Linked DNA regions of Homo sapiens. The protein of the gene in region 5 purifies or fractionates together with the protein of the main gene of each other region. This does not show direct contact. Each region holds a gene or a part of one and is shown on either strand. Other genes may lie near its edges.

Region 1 (3,599 bases), on a different chromosome or scaffold from region 5:
GTGGTGCAATCATAGCTCACTGAAGCCTTGAACTCCTGGGTTCAAATGACCCTGTTGTCTCAGCCTCCAACTACCATGCCTGGCTAATTTAAAAAAATTTTTTAGAGGCAGGGTCTCACTATGTTGCCCAGGCTGGTCTTGAACGCCTGCCTCAGTCTCCTGAGTTGCTGAGATTGTAGGTGTGAGCTACCGTGCCTGGCTCTGATCAGATTAATGTTTTAAAATCCCACTCTCTTTATGTTATCTGCCTGGTCTGAAATGTACAGCAAGTACTTGGTTCTTACATTAAGTCTAATCTATTAGCTTTAAAAATCCTCCACAATTAGGCTGGGCACGGTGGCTCACGCCTGTAATCCCAGCACTTTGGGAGGCTGAGGCAGGTGGATCACGAGGTCAGGAGATCGAAACCATCCTAACACAGTGAAACCCTGCCTCTACTAAAAATACAAAATATTAGCTGGGCGTGGTGGCAGGCGCCTGTAGTCCCAGCTATTCAGGAGGCTGAGGCAGGAGAATGGTGTGAACCCGGGGGGCGGAGCTTGCAGTGAGCCGAGACTGCGCCATTGCACTCCAGCCTGGGCGACAGAGCAAGACTCCATCTCAAAAAAAAAAAAAAAAAAAAAAAAAAGAAAAGAAAAAATCCTCCACAATTTCATCCCACCTTGAATTGCCAATGCTCCTTTTTATTTTTTTATACTATACTCCTTTATACTGCCCATACTCTGACCTATCTTCATCAAATCATAAGCTCTCTGGGGGCACAGTTTCTGGATTCATAAAAGCATTTAGTGCCGGGCACAGTCATTCACACCGGTAATCCCAGCACTTTGGGAGGCTGAGGCAGTCGGATCACTTGAGGTTAGGTGTTCAAGACCAGCCTAGCCAACATGGTGGAACCCCATCTCTACTAAAAATACCAAAATTAGCCGGGCATGTTAGTGCACACTTGTAATCCCAGCTACTCGGGAGGCTGATACATGAATATTGCTTGAACTAGGGAGGCAGAGGTTGCAGTGAGCGGGATGGTGCCACTGCACTCCAGCCCGGGTGACAGAGCGAGACTCTGTCTAAAAAAAAAAATAAAAATAAAAACATTTAGTAAATATTATTAAAGATCTGTATACACACATATATATATATATATATTCATGTTAGACTTGATCTTTTTAGAAACATCTAACTCATACTCTAGCTCAGGGGCAAATAGTTGAAAGTACCATATAAAACACATCTGCCATGGAATATCCTATTATATGTACTATTCTGTATTCTGGTCTTTACTCATATCAAGTAAAAAAATCAATCGCCAATAGTATTCTAATCACCATCTATTTGACAACCAACCTATAGCTATTTTTCTTCCAGGTATGCCCATTAATTTAATCTGAAAATTTTTAGAATCAGTGAGTTAGAGATTATGTAACAACTGAACAATCACTCTCCAAAGAAAATGTTCTTAAACTACTCAGAGTAGATATGTATAGCCAACTGTTATTTGTTGTTGACAAACCTAGATGTGGAACTGTCAATTGCTCCACTCAAGTTTGGACAACGCCACTATAACATCCTCTGGTGTTCATATATGTTCCTACTGCATGCTCCTCTTACAGCCGCTTGTAAGGAGGATGTGGGACTCAGGACTCCACCAGTGTTCCCCGGGAGTCATTAGTTTCACCCATCCTAAACTATTAGGCATCTGGGTTACACACAGGTTAACTGCTCCTTTAAAGGAATGGCTAGCAAAGGGGGATATCTGGGAAAGAAGAGCCAAACAGAGAGGTTACTGGAAGAAAGGTGAATTAAAAGAACTAAAAGACTTAAGGAAAGTAATCTTAAGACATAAACATTAACAGATATACTCAAATTTATCTCTCAATATGCACTTCTATATCTTGTATATTTTCAGAGCTCACTAGATTCAAATGTCCCTCAAAAGTGTGGGTATAAAATATGATAGGCTGAAATTACGTTAACTTCAAATCTAGCTTACTCCAATAACTGCCTTAATTATATTGTGTGGGTCTGGGTCAGAACTGTGGTTTTAACTGTTTAAGAGAAGGTTTATAGTAGCTGTTGAACATGTCTGACAGCATTTATTAAAGCCTTAAAATTTTCAGTCCTAAAGGCATCATCAGCTTTTAAGACTCTAGAAAGTTAAAGAATAAGATAGAGTTCATGATTTAATACTTAAATGTTTAAACATTCAAACATACTATGAGCAAAATAAAAAAGGTCTCTTATGTTAAAGAACAGTATATGGAGATAAAACACCCTATTTATACAGAAAATTCCTATCATCTTTTTTTGCACAATATATTCTGTCAAAGACTCATTTTTAGAGGTGGTAGAAAGTTACCAAGAATATGTATACTCAGTTTAGTAAATTAAAATGTACCACAACAATAGAATTTATAAAAAACCTCCAACTCTGATCCCACTATGTATAATATGAACACAATCAGTAACTATAATTTATTTAAAAGGAAAAAAAAAAGCAAACATTCACTTGTTTAGTGTAGAGAAAAAAAATTTTTTTTACAACTGTTGATTGTTCCTAACATCGTGAGTTATTTGATAGACATATTTTTGCCTGTTGGCTTTAAAAAATTTTTTTTAAATTTATTGTGTGCATTCTGTAAGCTCGGTTTTGTAATGTGTAGGTCTCTAAAAGGTGAGTGTTGCTATCCTACTTTAGCAGGAGTGCTAGTAAAGTCAGAAATCATGGAGGTTTTCTCCTGTATTCTATATATACCACCCAACCCCTCCTCCCACCAGTGACCCATCCTTGCTCCTTGTTGTAAGCACATATGAGCATATACACCCTTTGCGTGAGAACAAGACCTGTGTGTCTACGGTTTAGGCATAAGCCATACTATTCACAATATATAAAAATAGAACTTGTCTTTAGGTTGTGGCTGTAACCACTATTTTCAGGACTGAGAACAATTTGCATGTTGGCTTTATGTAACTAATATTCTACAGAAGATTTTGCTCAAAGATTTTTTGATTACTACATGTCAGGCTGCTATGGCTCCCTAGAGGTTCAGTTTGGACTATATTGTTTGAAGCTCTTCTTTAATACACTCTTAAAATTATTGTTCTACTGAGGCTGCTAAGATTCACTCAAGTTCAGTTCACCATACAGCAAGCACCCTGAAGTCCGTCATTCCCACAGATACCCAGCAAAGCAGCTGTATTTCAAGGAATCTCAAATTGTTGCTGGTAAACCGGTACTTGCAATGAGTCTTGTTTTTGGTTATTCCATTTTATGTTGAAAATCAAACATGAATCCACTTGTAGTTCCCACTGTAAATATTTCTGTGTATACTTCCAATTTATTCCATTTGTAGAATTTGGATAAGAATTTTTAAGATTTCCATGTATACTTCCAATTTACTCCATTTGTAATAGGAAACTTTCATGGTTGCCTATTACATAATTGCAAGGTAATCAAAGTCTCTGGGACCTGACAATTATTTACCTCTCTAGTCTCATTTCTCACTATTCTCCTCCATATTCTCTACTTCTCACTTTTTCCTGAATATACCAGATGTCTCTCACCTCAGTGCTTTTGAAGACACTATTTCTCATGTCCCCAA
Region 2 (4,099 bases), on a different chromosome or scaffold from region 5:
GATAAAGAAACAGAGGCCTAGATGAATTCAGCAGCTGCTGGGCCATTCTGCTCACTAATGGCCGAGGTCAGACCCAGGCCACTGGGTCCGCCTGACTCCAGCGTGCAGGTGCTTTCTGCTGATCCCCAGAGCGTGCAGGTGCTTTCCGCTGATCCCCAGAGGAGACACTGGCCAGGGCTCTTTTTTCCGAGACAAACTTCATTCTGGAAAGGCTGTCAGACCGGGCGCGGTGACTCACGCCTGTAATCCCAGTACTTTGGGAGGATGAGGTGGGCGGATTGCCTGAGCTCAGGAGTTCGAAACCACCCTGGGCAACATGTTGAAACCCCGTCTCTACTAAAAATAACAAAAAATATTAGCCGGGTGCGGTGGCTAACTTAGATCCGTAACTGCTCAACTTGAGACATGCAACATATGTCCTTCCCACCTTTTGTCACTCAGGTGGAACAGAGGCTGAAGTTGTTCAAGTTGGCGTCTGAGAAGCATCAGCATATGTATCGCCTCGCCATGACCGGCTCTGGGATCGATCGTCACCTCTTCTGCCTTTACGTGGTGTCTAAATATCTCGCTGTGGAGTCCCCTTTCCTTAAGGAAGTAAGTCTCTTCCACTTCTTCCGTCAGTTGTATTGGCTAGACCAAAACTTAGTAAATTACTACAGCCTTGCATGAACATATTTTAATGTCAGAATGGGCATTTGAAAAAAACGGGTCTGTGGGTGTAGCTGTCATAAAATGGAAAATGTGAGCAGCGCGTTTAGTACTGCATTTCTTCAAAAACTTCGCTGTCACATGTAGCCCCTGACTTAATAGACCCGAAGACCTCGAGAGCTTACGTCACAGTAAGACGCACGGAAGTAACTAGGGAGTGATGAGCTGTGAGCGCGTACCACCTTTGTTTTAAAAATCCTTTATTTTATTGTAAGTTTATGAAATATATTATTATTGTTTTTTGAGACAGGGTCTTACAGTGTTGCCCAGGCTGGGCTCAAACTCCTAGACACAAGCAATTCTTCGTCCTTAGCCTGCTGAGTAGCTGATGTGCACCACTGTGCCCAGCTCAAATTTAATTTAAGTTTTATTTATTTATTTATTTATTTTTTATTTTTTGGAGATGGAGTCTCGCTCTGTCACCCAGGCTGGAGTGCAGTGGCGCCATCTTGGCTCACTGAAACCTCCGCCTCCCGGGTTCAAGCTATTCTCCTGCCTCAGCCTCCCAAGTAGCTGGGATTACAGGCACACGCTGCCATGCCTGGCTAATTTTTTTTGTTGTTGTATTTTAGTAGAGACGGGGTTTCACCGTGTTGCCCAGGCTGGTCTCGAACTCCTGAGCTCAGGCAATCCACCCGCGTCGGGTTCCCAAAGTGCTGAGATTACAGACATGAACCATTGCGCCTGGCAAATTTAATTTTTAATAGTGGCTGTATTTAATAGCCAGCTTGAAAATTCTCTGAAAATATGGCAGCTGGCTCGTGGGAGTTGGTACAAGTCTGACACCTCTGTCCCCGTTCCGAATCTTACTCCATATATCTGTTACCTTCACTGTCTGAGATGCTATTTGCTGGTATGCCCCCACCCCCACCCTGCACTCCCTGCCCCAGTCTGGGGGCCCCACCCACCCCGCATGCTCTCTGCAGATACGCTGCCCAAGCCAGTGAGGCCTTTGGAGACATAGACTTGTGGTGTGTGGAACAATCAAAAGACCAAGCCAGGCTTTTCTCGTCTTCCCAAAGCGACTCCTGAGGGACGGTAGAGGAGGGGATTAGGAAACATTTCCCTGTTTCACTCAATAGGTTTTATCTGAGCCTTGGAGATTATCAACAAGCCAGACCCCTCAGCAGCAAGTGGAGCTGTTTGACTTGGAGAATAACCCAGAGTACGTGTCCAGCGGAGGGGGCTTTGGACCGGTGAGTGCGGCGGGGCTGGGCGAGGCGCAGTGGGGCGTGGTGATGGGATGGGTAATGGGGTGTGATGGGCCCATCTCCGTGCTGGGTGCCCCCGTTACCTTGCGGTTCTACCGCCGTAAAGGAATTACTGCTGATCATTGCTATGGATGTCCTTGGCAGTCTTGCACTTATTTTTTATTTTTTTGAGACAAGGTCTCGCTCTGTCACCCAGGCTGGAGTGCAGTAAGCATGATCATGGCTCATGGCAGCCTGAATCTCCCCCATCTCAGGTGATCCTCCCACCTCCACCTCCTGAGTAGCTGGGACTACAGATGCATGCCACCATGCCCAGCTAATTTGTGTGTGTGTGTGTATTTTTTTGTAGAGACAGGGTTTCACCATGTTGTCCGGGCTGGTCTCGAACCCCTGGGCTCAAGTGACCCGCCTGCCTCAGCCTCCCAAAATGCTGGGATTACAAGGAGAAGCCACCGAGCCCCGCCAGTGTTGCATTTAGAACATTAGAAAGTCCCTTTTTCACGTTGTCTCATTTCCCAGCAACAAATTCAAATTCCCTTGTCCTCCAGGTTGCTGATGACGGCTATGGTGTGTCGTACATCCTTGTGGGAGAGAACCTCATCAATTTCCACATTTCTTCCAAGTTCTCTTGCCCTGAGACGGTATGTATGAAAAGAAGTTCCTTTTTCTGAAGATGGGGTATTTTTGCTTTATTCTTTTTAAGGAAACACATCTTTAATTTGACAGAAAAAGTCAATTCAACTGCCTGCTTTTACTTGATTTCGGGAATTTTCACATAAATGGACTGCTTTTAAAAAAAAATTTTTTTTTTTTTGGAGACACAGTCTCACTCTGTCGCCCAGGCTGGAGTGCAGGGGCGAGATCTTGGCTCACTGTAACCTCTGCCTCCCGGGCTCAAGTGATTCTCCTGCCTCAGCCTCCCAAGTAGCTGGGACTACAGGCACCCGCCACTACCCCGGCTAATTTTTTTGTATTTTTAGTAGAGACAGGGTTTCACCATGTTGGGCAGGCTGGTCTCAAACTCCTGACCTCAGATGATCCACCTGCCTCGACCTCCCAAAGTGCTGAGATTACAGGCATGAGCCACCGCGCCTGGCCTAAATTTTTTTAATTAAAAAATTGTTTGTACAGACAGGGTCTCCCCACATTTCCCAGGCAAGTCTTGAACTCCTGGGCTCACGCGATCCTCTTACCTCAGCCTCCCAGTGTTGGGATTACAGGCTTCAGCCACTGTGCCCAGCCATAAGTGAATTTCAAAATTCTCTTTACCTAGTTTTAAACAAATGTATCTCAGCCAGGCACGGTGGCTCACACCTATAATCTCAGCACTTTGGGAGGCTGAGGCTGGCCAATCACTTGAGGTGAGGAGTTTGAAACCATCCTGGCCAACATGGTGAAACCCCGCCTCTACTAAAAATACAAAACTTAGCTGGTGTGGTGGCACACGCCTGTAATCCCAGCTACTCAGGAGGCTGAGGTAGGAGAATCGCTTGAACCCGGGAGGTGGAGGTTGTAGTGAGCCAGGATCATGCCACTGCACTCCAGCCTGGGTGATGGAGTGAGACTCCGTCTCAGAAAAAAAAAAAAAAAAAAGGAAATGTATCTAATTTGGTTTAACATGTTTACCTCTGTTGGCAGCAATGGTTTTGAAGCTTAACGTTGGAGTGCTGCTGTAACTTTCAGACTCTTTAGCACTTGGAAGATGAACTAAAAATAATGGGTACACACTAAGAAATCTGCATACAGAGCAGGGGACCCCCGGCTTCCTCTGTGGATGGAACAAGGGACCTCCTCCCTAGCATGGCACATTGCCCTTATTTATATTCTGCTTTCCTTGTCGTACATAGCCTGGCAACCCATGCCACTGTCGCTGTTAACAGAGGAAGTTGGGGTTTATTTGTTCACTGCGGTTTTCTTTTGTTGTTTGTTTGTTTGTTTGTTTTAGACAGGGTCTCACTCTGCCACCCAGGCTAGAGTGCAGTGGTGTGATCTCGGCTCACTGCAGCTTCAGCCTCCTGGGCTCAGGGGATCCTCCTACTTCAGCCTCCTGAGTAGCTGGGACTATAGGGGAGTGCCACCACACCTGGCTGATTTTTGTATTTTTTGTAGAAATGTGGTTTCACCATGTTTCCCAGGCTGGTCTTGAACTCCTGGGCTCAAGCGATTCCAAAGTGCTGGGA
Region 3 (4,099 bases), on a different chromosome or scaffold from region 5:
GACCAGCCTGGCCAACATGGCAAAACCCCGTCTCTACTAAAAATACGAAAATTAGCCAGGCGTGGTGGCCTGCGCCTGTAGTCCCAGTTACTCAAGAGGCTGAGCCATGAAAATCGCTTGAACCTGGGAGGTGGAGGTTGCAGTGAGCCGAGATCGCACCACTGCTCTCCAGCCTGGGAGACAAAGTGAAGCTCTGTCTCAAAAAAAAAAAAAAAAAAAAAAAAAAAACTCTGTGAGATAAAATTCCTTAAAAATCATTACATACACCTATATGTATAAATTATATGCACATTTATAGACCAGAAATACACCAAAACGTTAATGCTGAGAAGTAGTTTAAATTTTCTTTTCTAAACTCTTCTGTTTTCTGAATTCCCTAAAATAAATGTGTAACACTTTATAACCAGAAAAAAAATCAAAAGATTAAGTTCAATGTTAATAAATTAAAAGACAAATATTAAATTAACATTTTCTCCACAAGTATTCCTACTGAAGTAATGATGCCAAATTAAGACATAAACTCTTAAAAAAAAAATCACTGGGCTTTGGTATTACTCATTAAGAAATAGGACTATTTCTTTTTTTAGAAGTACATACATTCAAGCATTCTGTCTGCAGTGTGTTAAAATACACAATAGATTTACATGCTGATTAGACATCTCAATATTTTACTATGAATTTAAACTTCACTGAAAAAAAGGAAAGAGGGCTGGGCATGGTGGCTCATGTCTGTAATCCCAACACTTTGGGAGGCCGAGGCGGGAGGACTGCTTGAGCCTGGGAGTTCAAGAACAGCCTGGGCAAAATAGCGACACCTCGTCTCTACAAACAATAATTTTTAAAATTTTAATTTAATAATTTTTAAAAATTAGCCAGGTGTGGTAGTGTGAATCTGTAGTCCCACCAACTCGACAGGCTGAGGCAAGAGAATCACTTAAGCCTAGGAGGTCGAGGCTCCAGTGAGCTGTGATTGTGCCACTGTACTCCAGCTTGGTTGACAGAGTGAAACCCACTACACTTTTTTTTGCAAAAAAAAAAAAAAAAAAAAAAAAGAACCATGAATCATCAAAAGCATTATGACTGAAATAATAAAGGGCTAAAAAAATCCCAAACCTACCTTCCTTTTGTTGTGATATGTAATGTAAACAACAGCAATGCAAAAAGCAAAAATAATAAGATGAAAAAAGAAATGGCTGTCTTCCTCTTCTATATTTGAGGATGGCATCTTAAAAGATTTCACTGACTGTTCAATTTCCATGTAACCCCTGTTTTCTTCCAAGGTGTCATCAGACTCGTCGTCGTCCCTGGGGCCCGTGGTCCAGTCATAGTCTGGTTCTCCATAATCGCCATTGTCTAGAGTGTCTTTGGCTGTGGATGGAGAACTGTTCAGCATGAGAAGATCCTCCTCCTCTATACTAGGATCTTCATTGTTATCAGCTTCCTCTTGAGACAGAGGAGTAGGCGAGGGATGAGGGACCACAGATGCTCCTCCACTTTTCTTGGTACTCGTCGTGGGAGGGAGGGTGGTGCTGATTTGGGAAATAGAAGGTTTGGTTTGGTTTTCATGTGTTAAAGCATTCACATTTGGGGTAGAAATATGTGAGTTGAGTACGGTTGGGCTCGGTGAATCAGTCCGTGATACAACTGAAACAAACAAAGAATATCAAACTGAAATCTCCAACTTTATCTCCACCAAGCTAAAAGCATATTTACCCAAATTTTACACTAAGCATTTCTCTCTGCTACATTCCTATAACTTTCTCGAAAACTAGTTATTAAGTCTCAATAGCCAGCATTCAGTTACATTTCTTCTTAGTCAGTTATTCTTCAGATAATAATTGCTTTGCTAGATACTAACAATTTAAGCAGCATAAAAGACCTACTGCATCATACAGCCTGCCACCAAAAGAAAAGAAAAAGGGCTGACTTTAAGTCACGATGGCAAAGTTCACATACAGCCCTCACCCATCCCCTCTGTTTTCATTTCATAAAGGGTGTGGATTTCAGTTACCTTGTCCAGACTTTACCTGATCCCTAGAACAGACCAAAAAGTGGCTGATTCTCACTCAAGTAGGTCCCAAAAAAGATATGGAGTTTGGACCTAAATACTTTCAACACAACATAACAAATTCAGGGGAAGCTATAGGCATGCTGTAGATAGTAATTCTAAGTGATACTTGAACTAGAGGACTCCCTCTCCTAAATTCAAAAAAAAAGAAGGATCCTTACAAAGAAGAAAAAACTTCTAAAGGAGAAGCATCCGAAACGGGAACCTGAGAGCTAAGTGACAACTAGACTATTTTGAAGATGAGGGAAGGCATCTAGGTATAGCAAATGACACCAAATACACACACATTCTTATTTCCCTGTGCTGCTACCTACTCAGCATAGTTTACTAAAGGTAAAATTCTTTACATAAGAATTCTTACTATTCTTTTACCAAGAAGAATGAATAGAGGAAGATTCCAGAGGAATCCCTGCCGAAATTTAACCATCTCTAATTTATAATCTAATGTAGTATCTGTTGAAGAACTTCAAGGACCTCTACTACACTAAAAAAATAAAAAAAAAAAACCTCTGTCATGTAGATCTAAACATATTCAGACAATATTTTAAAGTCTATCACATTAAAGTAAAATATTTTATAGGGGTAAGATTAAACCAAGTCATTCTAGTGCTTTCACAAACATGTGCATTCACACAAGTTAACAATCCAACAGACAACCCTTTCTTCATGTGAATACACTCTGGTTTGTGTACCACAGTTGACATCCATTTTGTGTAGAAAAAAAAAGAAATAGCTGGTGTCAATTAGAATGAACAGAGGATCTCAGAAAAATAATGTAGTCAGTTAGTAAAAAAAAAAAAAAAAAAAAAAAAAAAAAAAGGCCAGGCCCTGTGGCTCACGCCTGTAATCCCAGCACTTTGGGAGGCCGAGGCAGGCTGAACATGAGGTCAGGAGCTCGAGACCATCCTGGCTAACATGATGAAACCCGGTCTCTACTAAAAAATACAAAAAATTAGCCAGGCATGGTGGCAGGCACCTGTAGTCCCAGCTACTCGGGAGGCTGAGGCAGGACAATGGCGTGAACCTGGGAGGTGGAGGTTGCAGTGAGCCGAGATGGCGCCACTGCACTCTAGCCTGGCCGACAGAGCAAGACCACATCTCAAAAAAAAAAAAAAAAAACCAATAAATTAGTAAAACTCTCTTTTTCCCTTTTTTTTTTTTGACAGGGTCTCACTCTGTTGCCCAGGCTGAAATGCAGTAGCACAAACATAGCTCACTGTAGCCTCGACCTCCTGGTTTCAAGCCCCCCATGTAGCTGGGACCACAGGCACATGCTACCCTGCCTGGCTTTTTTTATTTTTCATATATTTGTCCAATGCCATATGCAATTTTTTTTTTTTTTTGAGACAGCATCTTGCCATGTTGCCCAGGCTGCTCTCATATTCCAGGGTTCAAGAAATCCTCCCACCTTGGCCTCCCAAAGTACTGGGATTACAGTAAAACTCTTAAAACATTTTCAATAATTGAGTTCCTTGAAATTTTTTACTGGAAGAAAAGAGAAATAAACAGGACCTACAACTCAGTACATTACTCAGAAAACTACTAACAGGAATTTCTGAAAATAATTTTTGCATTTATCACTTCAACTTAGTTATAATTCAAGAATTTAAAAATTATTATTTTCTGATACATTTAATTTTCCTGCCAAAGTACAAAAAACATGTTTTAAAATAAAATTTAAAATTGAAATAAGTGGGAGCCAACTAACTAAACTTAACTTTTAAAAGAACAATTTTTCCATGGGTAAGTACCTTTAAAGGACACAAGCTGATAGGGTGGGAATAATTATAAAGAAATTTCCACCACGCAGTATAGAATTCACAGTCATCAGCAAATCCCTTCTTTCACCCTTTGCTTTCTTGTTATTACTGAAACCTGACTCTCCCTTAAGGACACATTTTCCTTTCAGCCTGTTTAAGTAATAGCTGTTTTTTCTCCCACATCCTTGAACCACTGAATCTCAAGGAGGCACAGTTCTCCTCCTCATTGCCCTTTTCAGACCATTCTCCCGTTCTTCTCCCTAAATGCCTC
Region 4 (4,099 bases), on a different chromosome or scaffold from region 5:
AAATCAGCTAGGTGAGGTGGTGCATGCCTGTAATCCCAGCTACTTGGTAGGCTGAGGCAGGAAAATTGCTTGAACCTGGTAAGCAGAGGTTGTAGTGAGCCAAGATCGCGCCACTGTATGCCAGCCTGGGCAACAAGAGCAAAACTCTGTTTCAAAAAAAAAACAAACAAAAAAACAAATAAACAAACAAGATTGTCCTTGGTTTCCTTGAACTCCTACTGCAACAACACATGATTTACTTTGTTTTGTTTTTTTTTTTGTCATTTATTGACTGGTTCTAGGAAAGGAAAATGTAGAAATGGAATACTGAGCTTATAGCAAAACAAAAAAGACATAGGGTACAAAGGAGATTTGAATCTGCTCTACTTGGGAGAAATCAATGAAAAAAAATATTCCAAGAAATAAAAAAATTCAACTTTGTTTTTTTAAAAGAACCCTCTGCATAAAGTTCAGAGATCTTGCCTGCAGGAACAAAAAACACATAATAGAAAAATTGATTTACTTAGAATATAGACTATAGTTCATAATAAAAGCAGTCCTTATTTGGTAAACCTTCAATACGAGTACATCACCCTTGGTTATTTCTTTGCTCTTTCTCTCTTGGCATAAAAGAAAAAAAAAATTCATGCAAAATCCTACTAAGGCCCAATATGTACAAAATATCTTTTAAAAGTCCTATGTTGATATATTTGTGATAATGACAAACGATAAAAGAAGTCATACTACTGACAACCTTTGAAATTTTCATTTGTCATCTTTCACATTTTCCTCTAGCCTAGAAGCAAATCAGAAGAATTACGTCTGATAGACTTTCTCCAAGAATAATAATCAAGAGAAATAGCAATTCATAATAAACAAAGCATTTTCTTAGTTTTTAATGAAGAAAACTAAGAAAGTAATTTCAAAATTATTCAATAGAAAATCTTTAAAGATAAATGGACTACACACTGGTAGAGAAATGAGTTGTTCTGGCTAACACATTAATCTCTTAAACACCAAAGTCTTCAAACCTCTTTTGATGGAAAACTGTTTAAAATGTTATTTCAGGTCTTCGGAGTTGGGTGTAGGGGAAAAAGGTTATTTCATTTCCTTAGCAATTAGAATAAATGGACCTCTAGAGATATCATCTATGCTGAGTTTTATATGCAAAGCTGTTTGAATATGTATTTTTCTAGGAAGAAGGTAGGTCTTCTAATAGCTTTTAACAGAAATTTCAAAGGTATCTATGATCCAAAGTATTAGGAAGCATTGTGTCAATGGCATGAAGTGGTTCTCAATCAGCGCTTACAATTAAAAGCCTAAGATACAATTTGTAACTTTTTGCATAAATAAATCCCAGACAACAATGATTAAGGTGGGTGCTGGAATCAGATGCCCAGAATCTGAACCTCAACTCCACTACGTACTAGCTGTGTCACCCTGCCAAAGGACACTTCACTCCTCAACCTTAGTAGCCACATTTGGAAATCAGGGACAACAGTGTATTGCATGAGGCATAAAAGCAATGATACATGAAAAGTTCTTACATGCATTGTTGCTATAAGGCATAGAACTGATGATGCATGAAAAGTTCTTAATAAAATGCCTGGCACACACAGAGCTGAATAAATGTTAGCCTTTGCTAATATCTGACCTTGGTGAAGGCAGTTGACCTCAAGTGAAGGCAGAATGTGTGTGGCTGCAGAATCTTCTAGGTGTAGTTGCCTTTTTGTAAAGATAATCGGAAGGTCTTGAGTAGCTCCTTCTCCTAGTTTGTCTTCTTGTCCTTAATAAAGCCTTTCCTGCCTTTAACAGTAGTATTTCACATATTAACAATTCCGACTTGATAGTGAACACTTGAATCTGTATTAATTTCTGCCTCTGGAAAGGGGAAAATATTGATTCATTTGAATAACTAGTCAGTTTTAGACAGCGGCATTAGATTTAAGACTGTTCATGGTTATATTGGGGGAAGGACTTGGGGTAGAGCTGCTTCACTTTTCATTTTGTAACTTTCGTTACTATTTGATTATGTGAATCATGCATGTGTATTTTATGGGTTGCTGAGTACAAAATTTATGGGCTATTTATGAATCAATGTGCTCTAAAGTGATACTAGAGATTTTTCTCTTTATTACTTACATTGTAAAAGCCTAATTATTGGGTAAAATAAATAGAAAAGAAGAACAGTCACGTGGCAGAGACTAGTGTCTAGGATTTTTTCAACATCTACAGGTTAGTATTTTAGTTTTTAATGGTTACAGAACCCTTAGTATTTTTAACATAAGTAAATAAAAACCGATTTTCCTAAGCACTCTGAATTATTAACAGCGGTAAACCTAATTTCTTCCCACTATATGCCAAAAGTTCAGGCTCAATTTTTATTTCTTGTACTTAAACACTACAAGTTGTACTGAACTTTAATATATATTGGTGCTTAGGATCCAATTTTTGATGCCCTAATTCTTACAAAGTATACTTTGGATAATGAGTGAGCAGCTGTTTGTCTTCCTGCACGTGGGGCTTTACTGCCAAAAGCAAACTTGCTAAATGGATTCATACACGCAAGTGACAGAAAGACTGAAATCTGATGTACAGATCACTACCATTACCAAGCGTCTTCATTTTCTAGTATACTTTGGGAGAAAAGACGCATTTGGCTTCCATGAAATAAAAAGGCATAAGGGCAACACATTTCCGTATTTAAATAAGATGTATTAAAAACAACAACCTCGGGGCTAAGTGCTTTTAAAAGACACACAAATTACCTATCCTCTGACTGAACTTTCAGAAAAGTCCTAAATTAAATTCACCTACAAAGGTTATATTTTATCTGTGGCAGCAGATGCAGACACACAGCCACTTAAAAATATTAGAAACTGTGAGTTTATTAAAAGTTACCTAAGTTTTGATGGTTGTCAATTGAGCACAGCAAAATAAGTCAGAAACATTTTTTCCCCCAGTGAAGGCAGAGAAATATCTCATTTTAAATCAGTATCAGTGCTTTCTATAGTCTTCCCTTAAGCGCTAAACAATGACATCCCAGAGGCTGAGGGCGTCTTTAACACTGCATTGACTCCGGTCTTCCCTTGCATTATGTCATCAAGATTCCACTGTTTCCTTCTGGCATTTTGACTTTTAAAAACTAGTTACTGGATTAATATAGGGTACACTTTTTTGGGTACTAATATTTGTAATTAAAAGACTTAGGGTCAATGTATGAGAGAACTCCATCTACGGTCCATCAACTATATGTAAATTATGATAATTTTAGAAAATTTTATGATAGTAGCATCAGTGATAGGGAATTTTAATAGTTTTAATATCAAGACAACTGGGGGGGGGCAGACTGGAAGAGAAAGTTAATTGACTCCTACCATCAATAAATTGCTATTATCAATCTGTACTTTCCCTCCAAACTGACTTTAAAACAATAAACTTCCTTCTAAAAAGGTAGACTGGTCTCAGGCAGAACCATAGCAAATGAAATACAGATAATTTACTCTGGGAAAGTTAATAGAACAATCTTTGATAATATTTCCAAACCCACCAGAACTTTTGAACCAGTCTTCTCAAATCAGTCGCATATTCTCACACTATGCCCCTTTGCTGGAAATATTTTTAAGGCCTCACTTAAACTTCCCTTCAGATCCTTTAGCTTACCCTTTCAAATCCTTAACACAGACAAATCTAACGGCCTCAGGTACATGTAGTAACTGGGAAAAGAAAAGCACAAAAACAGTGTGTATTATTAAATATTTACTTGGAAAAAGTACACATCAGCCACCAAGTCTTATAACCATCTGTTTCCCTTAGAGATTATTGCTAGATTGTTGCTTTGCTTCAACCTCAAGAATTTTAATTTAGAAAACTCAGGGATAAGGTTGTTCTTGAGGGAAAATGAGATACAGAAAGCTGAAGGTTGGTAAAAGGGTGGAGAGAGGCAGATGAGGTTTTTTTTTTTGGCAAAGAACCAATGGGAGAGAAGACAGGTTAGTGGGGAGAGGTAAGAAGAACGTGTTAAAATATGTTTAAGAGGGAAAGACAGAATTTCATAGGGATTATCCAAAGCATTTAAAAAAATCTCAATCACCTAATATATTCTGTGTTTCTAAGACTA
Region 5 (4,619 bases):
CAGGCTGGAGTGCAGCGGTCCAATCAGAGCTCACTGCAACCTCTGCCTCCCGGGCTCAAGCGATCCTCTCACCTCAGCCTCCCGAGTAGATGGGACCACGGGAACACGCCACCACAGCTACTTTTTAATTTTTTTGTAGAGACAGGCTGACCAGTTTCTTTTTACTTATTTTTATGTGGCTGATAGAAAATTGAAATTCTCACGTGTGGCTTCCACTGTGTTTCTATCCAACTAAAGAACCTGTCGCATTTTGTCAGCTCTCAACCACCCCCTACCACTGTCCTTATAAAAGAAATAAAAATAAAGCAGTGGCTGCCTCTTACCTGTGGCAGTAGTGACAGTCCCCACAGAGCTATTTACTCCGTCTTTCTCCACCCACACAGAACACGTATACAATGACCCGGGTCCAAGGCCATCCACGGTGACGTTGGTGGCTGTTGTGTTTCGAGTCTCTGTTGTGCCGCCGTCTCCAGTACACTGAACCCAGTAGTTGGAGTTCTGTGAGTCTAGGCCATCGGGGACCTCCCAGCTCAGGGAGATGGAGCTGGTGGTCTGAGTCTCCACTGTCAGGTTCCTCCCTGGGTTGGGGGCTGAGAATTGGGAAGGAAGGTCTGACAAAAAGGGAACCAGGTCAGTACAATCCCTCCCAACCCCTGAGCTCACGCCCCAAGTCCAGAAACAACGGCGCTCATAAACCCCTACCATGGACCACTGGACCCCACGGGGACCCCCCAGAGGCTCACGGCAGTTGCGGTCCCACCTCTTCGAGTGGGCAGTGAGTTCAGGCAGGGGTCACTCACCAGGCGCCCTGGCCCCTGTCCAGCTGCACAGGCCCTGGAGGGAACCCAGAGAAAACGGAGTCAGCCTCTCAACCACTCCTCCGCCCAGTGAGGCCGAGGGGCTGGGAGGAGCGGCTGGTCCCCGCCCCATGAGTCACCCTTGCATGGGAAGGAGGGGCCGGTGTTAGGCTGGGCTGTCACGACCTCGACCGTCTTTCCTGGGTCGAGGAGAGAAGGGGGAGCATGGCAGGAGCAGAGCTTAGGGAGCTGGGGTTGGCTCCACCCGATAAGGCTGAGAGATAAAATTAATGATTTCATTTCCTGAAATATATGTCCTTGGAAAACCGAGGGCAGAGAGCAATGAACAGACTGGGAAGGGAGAAAAAAACCAAGGTTGGGGATCAGGAACCTTGGCCTGAGGGTGGAGGGCCTGGGGGCCTGGGGGCCTGGGTCTGAGGGAGGAGGGGCTGGGGGTCTCGACCTCTGGTTTGAGGGAGGAGAGGTTGGGGGCCTGGACTCCTGAGTCTGAGGGAGGAGGGGCTGGGGTCTGGACTCCTGGGTCTGAGGGAGGAGGGGCTGGGGGTCTCGACCTCTGGTTTGAGGGAGGAGAGGTTGGGGGCCTGGACTCCTGAGTCTGAGGGAGGAGGGGCTGGGGGTCTGGATTCCTGGGTCTGAGGGAGGAGGGGCTGGGGGTCTCGACCTCTGGTTTGAGGGAGGAGAGGTTGGGGGCCTGGACTCCTGAGTCTGAGGGAGGAGGGGCTGGGGTCTGGACTCCTGGGTCTGAGGGAGTAGGGGCTGGGGGTCTGGATTCCTGGGTCTGAGGGAGGAGGGGCTGGGGGTCTGGACTCCTGGGTCTGAGGGAGGAGGGGCTGGGGGTCTCGACCTCTGGTTTGAGGGAGGAGAGGTTGGGGGCCTGGACTCCTGAGTCTGAGGGAGGAGGGGCTGGGGTCTGGACTCCTGGGTCTGAGGGAGGAGGGCCTGGGGGCCTGGGGGCCTGGGTCTGAGGGAGGAGGGGCTGGGGGTCTCGACCTCTGGTTTGAGGGAGGAGAGGTTGGGGGCCTGGACTCCTGAGTCTGAGGGAGGAGGGGCTGGGGTCTGGACTCCTGGGTCTGAGGGAGGAGGGGCTGGGGGTCTGGATTCCTGGGTCTGAGGGAGGAGGGGCTGGGGGTCTGGACTCCTGGGTCTGAGGGAGGAGGGGCTGGGGGTCTCGACCTCTGGTTTGAGGGAGGAGAGGTTGGGGGCCTGGACTCCTGAGTCTGAGGGAGGAGGGGCTGGGGTCTGGACTCCTGGGTCTGAGGGAGGAGGGGCTGGGGGTCTGGACTCCTGGGCCTGAAGGAGGAGGGACTGGGGGTCTGGACCCCTGAGTCTGAGGGAAGAGGGGCTGGGGGTCTGGACTCCTGAGTCTGAGGGAGGAGGGGTTGGGGGCCTGGACTCTTGGTTTGAGGGAGGAAGGGCTGGGGGCCTGGACTCCCGGGTCTGAGGGAGGAGGGGCTGGGGTCTGGACTCCTGGGTCTGAGGGAGGAGGGGCTGGGGGCCTGGACTCCTGAGTCTGAGGGAGGAGGGGCTGGGGTCTGGACTCCTGGGTCTGAGGGAGGAGGGGCTGGGGGTCTGGACTCCTGGGCCTGAAGGAGGAGGGACTGGGGGTCTGGACCCCTGAGTCTGAGGGAAGAGGGGCTGGGGGTCTGGACTCCTGAGTCTGAGGGAGGAGGGGTTGGGGGCCTGGACTCTTGGTTTGAGGGAGGAAGGGCTGGGGGCCTGGACTCCCGGGTCTGAGGGAGGAGGGGCTGGGGTCTGGACTCCTGGGTCTGAGGGAGGAGGGGCTGGGGGCCTGGACTCCTGGGTCTGAGGGAGGAGGGGCTGGGGTCTGGACTCTTGGTTTGAGGGAGGAGGGGCTGCTTCCTGTCCGTGAGCACAGCTGTGTGTTGCCTGAAGCCAGTGTCCCCCGCAGCAGACACGACAGTGTCTAAGGGCCCGGGTGAAGCTGGTGTCCCCCACAACAGACACGACAATGTCTAAGGGCCCGGGTGAAGCTGGTGTCCCCCGCAGCAGACACGACAGTATCTAAGAGCCCAGGTGTAAGACTCTCCTACAGTCTCTGCCAAGCCTGAAGCCCTCTTCCTTCTCCAGGGGATCTTCAGCACCTACTTCCTCAAGATCGAGGTGCAGGCACCCAGCTCCTTCTCCCTCAGACCTGGGAGTCCCTGCCTTGGGAGCCCGCTCTGGGCGGGGAGCACTTACCAGCAGCACCAGGTTCCCCCAGACCCCGAGGCCCCCGCCAGCCCCAGCCATGCCTCCAGACACTGCCGGGGACCCAGGAGTCCCAGGCCTAGTCCTTCCACCTGCTGGACTTTACACTCAAGAATTTCCCCTTTACCAGATCATTGGTGAAGCCAGAGGCCAGGGCGGGAAGGGGAGGAGGAGGAAGTGGAACCCAGCTCCCAACCCTGCCCCGCTGGCCCTCACCTTCCTCCCTCACCGCTGCCTCTAGCTCTGACACTGGAGATGCCTCCCATCCTTTCTCCAGCCCCCAGCCCACTCCACTTTGTCCCCCGAAATCTCCCTCTGCACCCCAGGTACCGGGTGCCGCGCCCCACTGCTGCACGGATGCGGGACGTGGGGCAGAGGATGAGAGCAGGGGGTGCTGAGAGAAAGGCCAGCTGACTCCCTCGCCTCCCTGGTGGGTGATCACACATCAAGAGCAGCCTGGGGCTTAGACCTCATGCCCCTCGTCCCTGGAGCACGCTCTTCCATTCAGCCTCTGACGCCTTTCCCCTCTCCGTCTCCCACAAGCCCCTGCAGCTCTCACAAAATGAGCCCAGCGGGCTCCTGCCTCTTGGCCTTTGCCTAGACTGTCTCCCCCACCAGATGCACCTGCCTACTTTCCCCCTAACAGTCTCCTACCCACTGCTCCATTAGGATTCAGCTTGGAAATGACCCATGCCGGGCCTGGGGCCTTTCTAGCCTGGTCAGGACCCTGTGCACTGTCTTCCACACCCCAGACTCTCTAATTTGCATATCCATCTGTGACCCTGAGCAAATGACTTAAATCCACAGTGACTCAGATTCCTCATCTCTAAAGAATGGGCACCCTTGTAAATATGCTAAGAGAAATAGATGAGTTACTACGTGGAAAGTCTTGGAACAATGCCTGGCCCATTTTAAACAGTTGATAAATATTAGTCATGTTTATTTTTAGTTCATCCCTAGGCCACCTGTGCTCAGAAGGGGCCTGACACCCAGGGCTTTTCAAGGTGTTTTTGTTGACTTACTATGTGCACACGTGGACTGCCTTCATCTCACATATAGTGCGGAAATGAAGAATAGAAACCCCAGCCGGGCATATTGGTGTGTGCCCAGCTACTCAGGAGGCTGAAGTGGGAGGATCACTTGAGCCCAGGAGTTTGAGACCAGCCCGGGCAATATACAAAACCCCATCTTTACAAAGAAAAACAAAAAGAGAGAAAAAATTACCCAGGCATGGTAGTGCACGCCTGTAGTCCCAGCTACCGGGAGGCTGAGGTGGGAGGATCACCTGAGACTGGGAAGTCAAGGCTGCAGTAAGCTGCGATTGTGCCACTGCACTCCAGCCTGGGTGACAGAGTGAGCCCCTGTCTCAGAAAGCAAAACAATGGCCAGGCGCGGTGGCTCACACCTGTAATCCCAGCAATTTGGGAGGCCGAGGTGGGCAGATCACCTGAGATCAGGAGTTCGAGACCAGCCTGGCTAAGATGGTGAAACCCCATCTCTACTAAAATGCAAAAATTAGCTGGCTGTGGTGGCAGGCACCTGTACTCCCAGCTACTCAGGAGGCTGAGGCAGGAGAATGGTGTGAACCTGGGA
Region 6 (3,500 bases), on a different chromosome or scaffold from region 5:
TAATTAAACAAAAACTTAAAAATTGCTTTGAGTTGGAAACTAGAACTGAAGGAGCCTACAGCAGTCCTCGGTACTCTTCCTGGTGTCCACGGATGGCATACCCATCTCTCTCTCTCTCTCTCTGTTCCCTGTTCATCAGAGCAGCAGATACACCAACACCACTCTCAAGAGTCAGTAAAAGCTCCAAATCTATAGCCCAGATGCTACATACACTTCACAGAACTTAGGTGGTCCTTACTGTTAGAGACTGTGAAAAGTGGAATCGTCTCTCTACTCGAGAATCATTAGGTAATTTGAAGATGATCTTGACACTTTCAGGGTCATCAGGGGAAGGTTCAGGGGGCAGGCATTCCAACTTCCTTTCCTTTTCCTCCTGTAAATTCTGCAGAGACACAAAGCAAAGGTGAGGCTACAGCTCAAGAAATAAATACAATGACCATGTAGCTTTATTACGCAGTCGTCAGAAGAAAAATTAATGACTAAGTATTCTAAGAAAAACCTCTCAGGAATAGTCAAAAACAACCTAAATTTAAAGTACAATTGCATCTCATGTATTCTTTATTATGTCTAGGTATTTATTTGAGAAAAAGGAGAAAGGGAGCAGGGTGCCATGGTATGTGCCTGTAGTTCCAGCTACTTCAGAGGCCACAGCAGGACTTCTTAAGCCCAAGAGTTTCAGGGTGTAGTGCTCCATGATTGCACTGGTGAATAGCCACTGCACGCCAGCCTGGGCAACACAGTGAGACCCTGTCTCTTAAAAAAAAAAAAGAAATAAAAGGAAATGACTAAAAGACACTGGTTATAGGTAAGCGGTAATACATAATCAAATAAGATAATGTATATCTCAGTCTGATTGCTAGGGAACAAAAACAACAACAAAACAAAACAAAACAAAAACAAAAAGATAATGAGTAAAATGCCAAATCAGCTAATACTGGTATTAAGAATGAATATTTAGGGCCAGGCATGGTGGCTCACGCCTGTAATCCCAACACTTTGGAAGGCCAAGACAGGCAGATCATGTGAGGTCAGGAGTTCGAGAGCAGCCTGGCCAATATGGCAAAGCCCGTCTCTTTTTTTAAATTTTTATTTAAAAAAGAATGAATATTTAAATGGTATGAAAAATTTAAATCACCCCTAATTCCAACATGTTGTAATTTTTTCTTTCCTTTTTCCTTTTTTTTTTTCCCTCTTAGTCTGTTTAAGGTGGCTATCATTTTTTCCTTTCACACTTAAGACCAAGATGGCAAAGTCTCGGCAGTTTGGGAACCACAGGGAGTAAAGCCACACGTCCATTACCTGCCGCCGTCTCTCCTCTGCCAACTTTTGCTGTTGCACCTCCTCCTCCTTCCGCCGCTTACGCTCCCGCTCCTCCCGTTTCTTTCTTTCTTTCTCCTGGTCAGCTCTGAGAGAGGCCAGGTAGGCCTCATCCTGCTGTTGTCTCAGCACTTGGGTCTGGTTTCTTTCTTCCCTGTGAATAGATCAAAAGCAAGAGAAGAAAAACAGCACTCTCACAAAGTTCTGTGTTTTCTTATATTGAAATCTTCTGTGTGTGTGTGTGTGTAAAAATGTTGATATTCTTAGCAGATGACGATTTCACACTGCCATAAGGGATTCCAAAAGCAGAGCGTGGCAGAATCTGAATAAGCCACCTTTTTTCTCAGTTTAATTTGGCAGAAAAGGAAACAGCAAGCTTTCCTCTCCTCTTTTAAAATAAAACTTTTCCCCTAATTCTAACAAATGTGACACAGTACTGTTATTATGAAGGGATCATCAATATCATATTTTACAAGTAAATACCATTTTGGGTGACTGCATTTTTGTACTGATCTCATAAAACCAAAACACACACATATATATCCATACACACATTGTAGCAGATCTGAAAATGTAGAGTTTTCAGAGTCATTCAGAGAATCACTAATCAAAGATAAAACATTATAACATTTGGCATATCTCCTATTTTCTCTCCAACAAATTTCTGTTTTCTCTTAGCCAAAATATTTAGCCAATCAAAATAGTTGAACAGATTTTATCTTTAAAAATTAAGATAAAATTTACATGCAGTGAAATGCACAGATCTTAAATGTACAATTCAATGAATTTTGATAAATGTAACCATGTAATCACCACTCCAATCAAGACAGAACATTTCAGTTACCTCGGAAAGTTTCCTGTTCTATACATTTTTTTACACAGTTAAAATAACGCTATTATTTACAGGATTTTGATCTTGCATTTTTCTTTTTTTTTGGAGACAGGGCTAGCCTGTCACCCAGGCTAGAGTGCAGTGGTGCGATCATGACTCACTGCAGCCTCAACCTCCTAGGCTAAAGCAATCCTGCCACCTCAGCTTACAGGCGTGTGCCACCACGCCTAGCTAATTTTTGTATTTTTTGTAGAGATGGGGTTTCACCATGTTGCCCGGGCTGACCTCAAACTCCTGAGTTCAAGCAATCTTCTTACCTCAGCCTCCCGAAATGCTCGGATTACAGGTATGAGCCAACATGCTCGGCCTGATTCTGCATTTTTCTAATATGTAACAAGCATGTCCCCATGTTATTAAAAACTTTCCATAAAATTTAAGTTTGTTTAACTTTCTTGAGGGCAAGTTGGCATTACAAATCAAGAGCCTTAAAATATACTTATATTGATTGTCTCACCCAGAAACTGCACTTCCAGGAATTTAAATTTTAATCTAAGGAAACCATCACAAATTGCAAAAAATTATCTCCCTATATGCTAATTATAATAGTAACAAACCGAAAATAATCTAAAAATCCAACGAGAGTGGCCTGGTTAAATTATGATGTATTTAGATAATGGAATGTTATGCAGTAATTTTTAAAATGTGGCAGAATATTTAATGATGAGGGAAAAGGCCGTGATATATTCTTACATAAAGAAGGGTTGTAAAAAAGTATTATCCCAATTTTACAAATAAATGTGTACGTATATAGGGGTGTGTGTTGTGTATAAAATTAAAAAAATTTATAACAATGTTCAAGTGGTGGTAGGTTTATCAGTGATCTTAAATTTCTTCCTTGTGCTTTTTTGTGGTTTTAGGATTTCCTATAATTAATGTACATAACTTATGTAATGGAGAGGAATTATAACCATTCCACTTTTTTTTTTACATCGAAGTTCTTTATATTATATTCAGCTATTCTAAATGCCACAATATACATTCTTGAGCACAGAGGCCTGTCTTTGTTTATTCATTCATTTATTATTTTTTAAAGACAGAGTCCTGCTCTGTCATCCAGGCTGGAGTGCAGAGGCACAATCAGAGCTCACTGCTGCCTCGAACTCCTGGCCTCAAGCAATCCTCCTGCCTCGGGCTCCCAAGGACCTGGGACTACAGGCATGTACCACCATGCCTAGCTAATTTTTTCTTATTTTTTGTAGAGATGGGGTCTCGCTTTGCTGCCCAGTCTGGATTCAAGTAATCCTCCTGCCTCAGCCTCCTAACGTGCTAGGATTTCAGGTGTTAGCCACTG
Region 7 (4,099 bases), on a different chromosome or scaffold from region 5:
GGAGGCTGAGGCGGGCGGATCACCTGAGGTCAGGAGTTCAAGACCAGCCTGACCAACATGGAGAAACCCCATCTCTACTAAAAATACAAAATTAGCCAAGCGTGGTGGTGCATGCCTGTAATCCCAGCTACTGGGAGGCTGAGGCAGGAGAATCGCTTGAAACTGGGAGGTGGAGACTACGGTGAGCCAAGATCATGCCACTGCACTCCAGCCTGGGCAACAAGAGCAAAACTCCATCTCAAAAAAAAAAAAAAAAAAAAGACACCTATAAAAAAAGGTGCTTCAAGGAGGGAGTAACCAGTTAATGATGTCAAAAGCTCTTGAGAGGTTAAATAGGTTGGCTAAGTGGTTAATTTTTTGCATCAAATATATGGCCTATTTAATACATTTACACATCCTGATTTAGACTTGATTTCACCACAGCTGAAAGGAAATAAACAAATCAAACAAATGTAAAAGTACAAATACACAATCATAAATTCCAAGCATCAGAATGGTTTCTAGCTTTCTAGGGGAAAAAACTCAATTATTTTATTCTCACCTAAATCTTACCTGAATCCAGTCTCCGAGGTAATATTGCTGGGGTAAGCATAGATTTTTTCTTCTTCAAGTATATCAGGCTCTGGTTTAGCTTTATTAAATCTCCGGATTTTCACTAAAATAATAAAGTCATTATTAGATCGAATTCTGAAAGACAAGTCTAGTTTCATTTTTTCAAATTATGCTAATTTGCCGTTCTTATTAACGTCCTTGAGTATTTCAAATTCTACTATGTGCCAGGCCTGTTCTAAGCCCTGGGAATATAGGGATTACATTAGTATTGAAATAGCAATAATAGCTGACATTTATTGTGCACTTAGAACACATGAGGCACAGTTTAAATGTTTTACATGGATGCCCTCATTCAGTTCTCATAAACACCTGCATGAAGTGGATGCTCCTATTACCCCGCAGTGAAGCCCAGAGAAGTTGAGCAACCAGCCAGCCATCTAATTCAGAAATCATGACTTCCTCTGGTCCAGGGGAAAATACAGATAATAATCCTACATTCTAAGACAGTATGGAAAGTACCTTCAATAGAAGCTTGTGCAAGAGGCTTGCACAAGGAGTTGTCAAGCTGCTTTTTGGCCTGGAAAGCAGTGCCTAACTCAACAGGAGGTATCAGAGAGGGGAAAAGAGGATAGAGTTTGAGCCCAGGAATTAATCACACAGACTAGGAGAATAAAGAAGGGTGCTTCAGGTGCAGGAGGAGTCTGAACAAATGCTATGGTCTTGAGAAGCTACACGTATGTATGGGTGTGAGGGTGTATGGACAAGGGGTGGGTTGGGAAGATAGGCAGAGAATGCATCAGGAGTGGCTGGTGTGTCATGCAAGGCATTTACACTTTTTTTTTTTTTTTTTTTGAGACGGAGTCTTGCTCTGTCGCTCAGGCTGGAGTGCAGTGGCACAACCTTGGCTCACTGCAACCTCTGTCTCTGCCTCCTAGGTTCAAGCAATTCTCCCACCTCAGCCTCCCGACTGGGATTACAGGCGTGCACCACCACACCCAGCTAATTTTTTTTGTATTTTCAGTAGAGACGGTGTTTCACCATGTTGGCCAGGCTGTTCTCAAACTCCTGGCCTCAAGTGATCCACCCGCTGAGGCCTCCCAAAGTGCTGGGATTACAGGCGTGAGTCACCAGGCCCGGCCTAAGACATTTAGATTTTATCCTCAGAGCAACTGGCAGTCTTTGAAAGGATCTCACCATCATCCCTGAAGAGCAGGCTAGGTAGAGGCCATTCAAGGAGAACCTTTCAGGCTGGGCATGGTGGCTCATGTCTGTAATCCCAGCACTTTGGGAGGCCGAGGCGGATAGATGACCTGACATCCGGAGTTTGAGACCAGCCTGGCGAACATGATGAGATGCTGTCTTTACTAAAAACACAAAAATTAGCTGGGTGTGGTGGTAGGCGCCTATAATCCCAGCCACTCAGGAGGCTGAGGCAGGAGAATCGCTTAAACCCAGGAGGCGGAGGTTGCAGTAAGCTGAGATCACGCCATTGCACTCCAGCCTGGGTGACGAGAGTGAAACTCCAACTCAAAAAAAAAATAAAGAAAATGCCTTTTATGCCACATGAAAACGTTAGATTTTTTTTCCTTCAGCTATTAGAAAACTCTGGGCAGGGAAGCTGTTAACAATCAGAGTTAAGTATAAACAAGATCATGTTGGCAGGAATAAGAAATATGAATCAGTGGACAGAGGGAAAGAGACCTGTTATGTGTCTCCTGGATGTAGCCATGCAAGAGATGATGAGTACCTAACCAAGGCAGTGGCAGGGACCAAAGAAAAGAGACAGAGCTGAAAGACAGGTAGACTGAATAAGACTGATGACTGACTGATCACCAATCCTATCCAGTTCTTGGGGAGTGAGGTAGAAGGAAGAAGGTAGATGACTCCTACGTTTCTAGGATTCTGATTTATCAAGTGGATGCAGGCTGGTATTGTTAACTGAGCTAGAAGAGGACGGTTAGGATGGAGGGAAATTTTGAAGAAAATTATGTTCTGTTCACTTCTGATCTTGTTGGTGCCTGTGGGACATGTGGATGAAAACTTCATTAAGCAGATGAATATATACAATTTGGGGCTGGGTGCGGTGGGTCATGCCTGTAATCCCAGCACTTTGGGAGGCCAAGGCGGGCGGATCACCTGAGGTCAGGAGTTAGAGACCATCCTGGCCAACATGACGAAACCCCATCTCTATTAAAGTGCTAGCCTCCTAAAGTGCTAGGATTACAGACATGAGCCACTGTGCCTGGCCTATTTCTTAATTTTTAATTTTAAATGCAAGCTGACATTTCAGCTGCCTTCAGAGAAGCAAAAGTTTGTGGATGTTTTTGTTGTTGTTGTTTTAGGAGACAGGGTCTTACTCTGTCACCCAGGCTGGAGTGCAGGCATGTGATCTTGGCTCACTGCAACCTCTGTCTCCCAGGCTCTAGTGATCCTCCCACGTCAGCCTCCTGAGGGGCTGGGACCACATTTGTGCACCACCATACCTGGCTAATTTTTTGTATTTTTTGTAGAGATGGAGTTTCATCATGTTGTCCAGGCTGGTCTTGAATTCCAGAGCTCAAGTGATCCTTCTGCCTCATCCTCCCAAAGAGCTGGGATTACAGGCTTGAGCCACCATTCCCAGCCCAAAAAGTTTGTGTCTTGTTTTAATGGAAAAGTTTCACTTGCATTAACAAAAATTTATTAATGACACAATCTTAAAAGAATGGGGTCTCACTGGTGGTGGCTGTACCTTCCTGTTGGTTTGAAATTAAAGAAGTCTGCATGTGGTCACCACTCAGATACACAGAGAACTTCCTTGTCGCTAATGGGCTATACTTTAAACTGGGAGGAAAGGAAGCAGTTCGAAGTTCCTATAAGAACAGGCTCGTTGTAATTCTCACCTGTGTAAATGAGGAGACATATCAGGGAACAGATGAGTTCCAGTGCCAAGATGGCCAGAATGAGGTCAAGATACAATCTGCCAGGCTCTGGGAAGGAGTGCTGCATGCACAGTATGAGGAGAAGCACTGTGTTGCCTGAGGAGGAGAAACATAAAACACAGCATGTGATGAGAAATACATATATGGTCTTTGTCCAATAGATAGTTGGTCTTTGTCTGGTTCCTTACACAGAGCTCCTAAAACACTTGTAATTTCCTGAGTGATCAGAGCCTTCAGAAATGAAGACCCAGGCCAGGTGCAGTGGCTCACACCTGTAATGTCAGCATTTTGGGAAGTCAAGACAAGAGGATTGCTTGAGCCCAGGTGGTCGAGACCAGCTTAGGCAACATAGCAAGACCCCATCTCTATAAAAAAATATAAAAAATTAGCCAGGCATGGTGGCACACATCTGTAGTTCCAGCTACCTGGGAGGCTAAGGTGGGAGGATTGCTTGAGCCTGGGAGGTTGAGGCTGCAGTGAGCTGAGGTCGTGTCACTGCACTCCAGCCTGGGCAACAGAGCAAGACCCTACTGCAAAAAAAAAAAAAAAAAAAAAAAAAAGGAAAAGAAATGAAAGACCCAGAGAAAACTATTCTTATGCTTAGGTTTGATGAAGAATGGACAGCC

The links.
Region 1: the proteins of PTPRH (region 5) and NGLY1 purify together in Homo sapiens (affinity purification with mass spectrometry, with the first as the bait; one large-scale study listed by BioGRID). This does not show direct contact.
Region 2: the proteins of PTPRH (region 5) and CPT1A purify together in Homo sapiens (affinity purification with mass spectrometry, with the first as the bait; one large-scale study listed by BioGRID). This does not show direct contact.
Region 3: the proteins of PTPRH (region 5) and C5orf15 purify together in Homo sapiens (affinity purification with mass spectrometry, with the first as the bait; one large-scale study listed by BioGRID). This does not show direct contact.
Region 4: the proteins of PTPRH (region 5) and GLUD1 purify together in Homo sapiens (affinity purification with mass spectrometry, with the first as the bait; one large-scale study listed by BioGRID). This does not show direct contact.
Region 6: the proteins of PTPRH (region 5) and FAF2 purify together in Homo sapiens (affinity purification with mass spectrometry, with the first as the bait; one large-scale study listed by BioGRID). This does not show direct contact.
Region 7: the proteins of PTPRH (region 5) and TMEM192 purify together in Homo sapiens (affinity purification with mass spectrometry, with the first as the bait; one large-scale study listed by BioGRID). This does not show direct contact.

The regions. Positions count from the first base shown.
Region 1 is NC_000003.12:25,721,147-25,724,745, forward strand, and holds part of NGLY1 (peptide-N(4)-(N-acetyl-beta-glucosaminyl)asparagine amidase), read right to left. Parts: intron 1,754-3,599; coding exon of another isoform or gene 1,589-1,753; exon of another isoform or gene 1,531-1,588; intron 1-1,530. UniProt on the Homo sapiens protein: Specifically deglycosylates the denatured form of N-linked glycoproteins in the cytoplasm and assists their proteasome-mediated degradation. Cleaves the beta-aspartyl-glucosamine (GlcNAc) of the glycan and the amide side chain of Asn, converting Asn to Asp.
Region 2 is NC_000011.10:68,758,030-68,762,128, reverse strand, and holds part of CPT1A (carnitine O-palmitoyltransferase 1, liver isoform), read left to right. Parts: intron 1-441; coding exon 442-594; intron 595-1,790; coding exon 1,791-1,904; intron 1,905-2,467; coding exon 2,468-2,560; intron 2,561-4,099. UniProt on the Homo sapiens protein: Catalyzes the transfer of the acyl group of long-chain fatty acid-CoA conjugates onto carnitine, an essential step for the mitochondrial uptake of long-chain fatty acids and their subsequent beta-oxidation in the mitochondrion.
Region 3 is NC_000005.10:133,958,377-133,962,475, forward strand, and holds part of C5orf15 (keratinocyte-associated transmembrane protein 2 precursor), read right to left. Parts: intron 1,645-4,099; coding exon 1,118-1,644; intron 1-1,117.
Region 4 is NC_000010.11:87,087,929-87,092,027, forward strand, and holds part of GLUD1 (glutamate dehydrogenase 1, mitochondrial isoform a precursor), read right to left. Parts: intron 3,696-4,099; exon of another isoform or gene 1,634-3,695; intron 1-1,633. UniProt on the Homo sapiens protein: Mitochondrial glutamate dehydrogenase that catalyzes the conversion of L-glutamate into alpha-ketoglutarate. Plays a key role in glutamine anaplerosis by producing alpha-ketoglutarate, an important intermediate in the tricarboxylic acid cycle.
Region 5 is NC_000019.10:55,206,366-55,210,984, forward strand, and holds the start of PTPRH (receptor-type tyrosine-protein phosphatase H isoform 1 precursor), read right to left. Parts: upstream 3,137-4,619; 5' UTR 3,069-3,136; coding exon 3,018-3,068; intron 1,050-3,017; exon of another isoform or gene 931-1,049; coding exon of another isoform or gene 835-930; coding exon 801-834; exon of another isoform or gene 703-800; intron 612-702; coding exon of another isoform or gene 591-611; coding exon 324-590; intron 1-323. UniProt on the Homo sapiens protein: Protein phosphatase that may contribute to contact inhibition of cell growth and motility by mediating the dephosphorylation of focal adhesion-associated substrates and thus negatively regulating integrin-promoted signaling processes.
Region 6 is NC_000005.10:176,496,885-176,500,384, reverse strand, and holds part of FAF2 (FAS-associated factor 2), read right to left. Parts: intron 1,472-3,500; coding exon 1,300-1,471; intron 383-1,299; coding exon 239-382; intron 1-238. UniProt on the Homo sapiens protein: Plays an important role in endoplasmic reticulum-associated degradation (ERAD) that mediates ubiquitin-dependent degradation of misfolded endoplasmic reticulum proteins.
Region 7 is NC_000004.12:165,085,034-165,089,132, forward strand, and holds part of TMEM192 (transmembrane protein 192), read right to left. Parts: intron 3,570-4,099; coding exon 3,435-3,569; intron 656-3,434; coding exon 553-655; intron 1-552.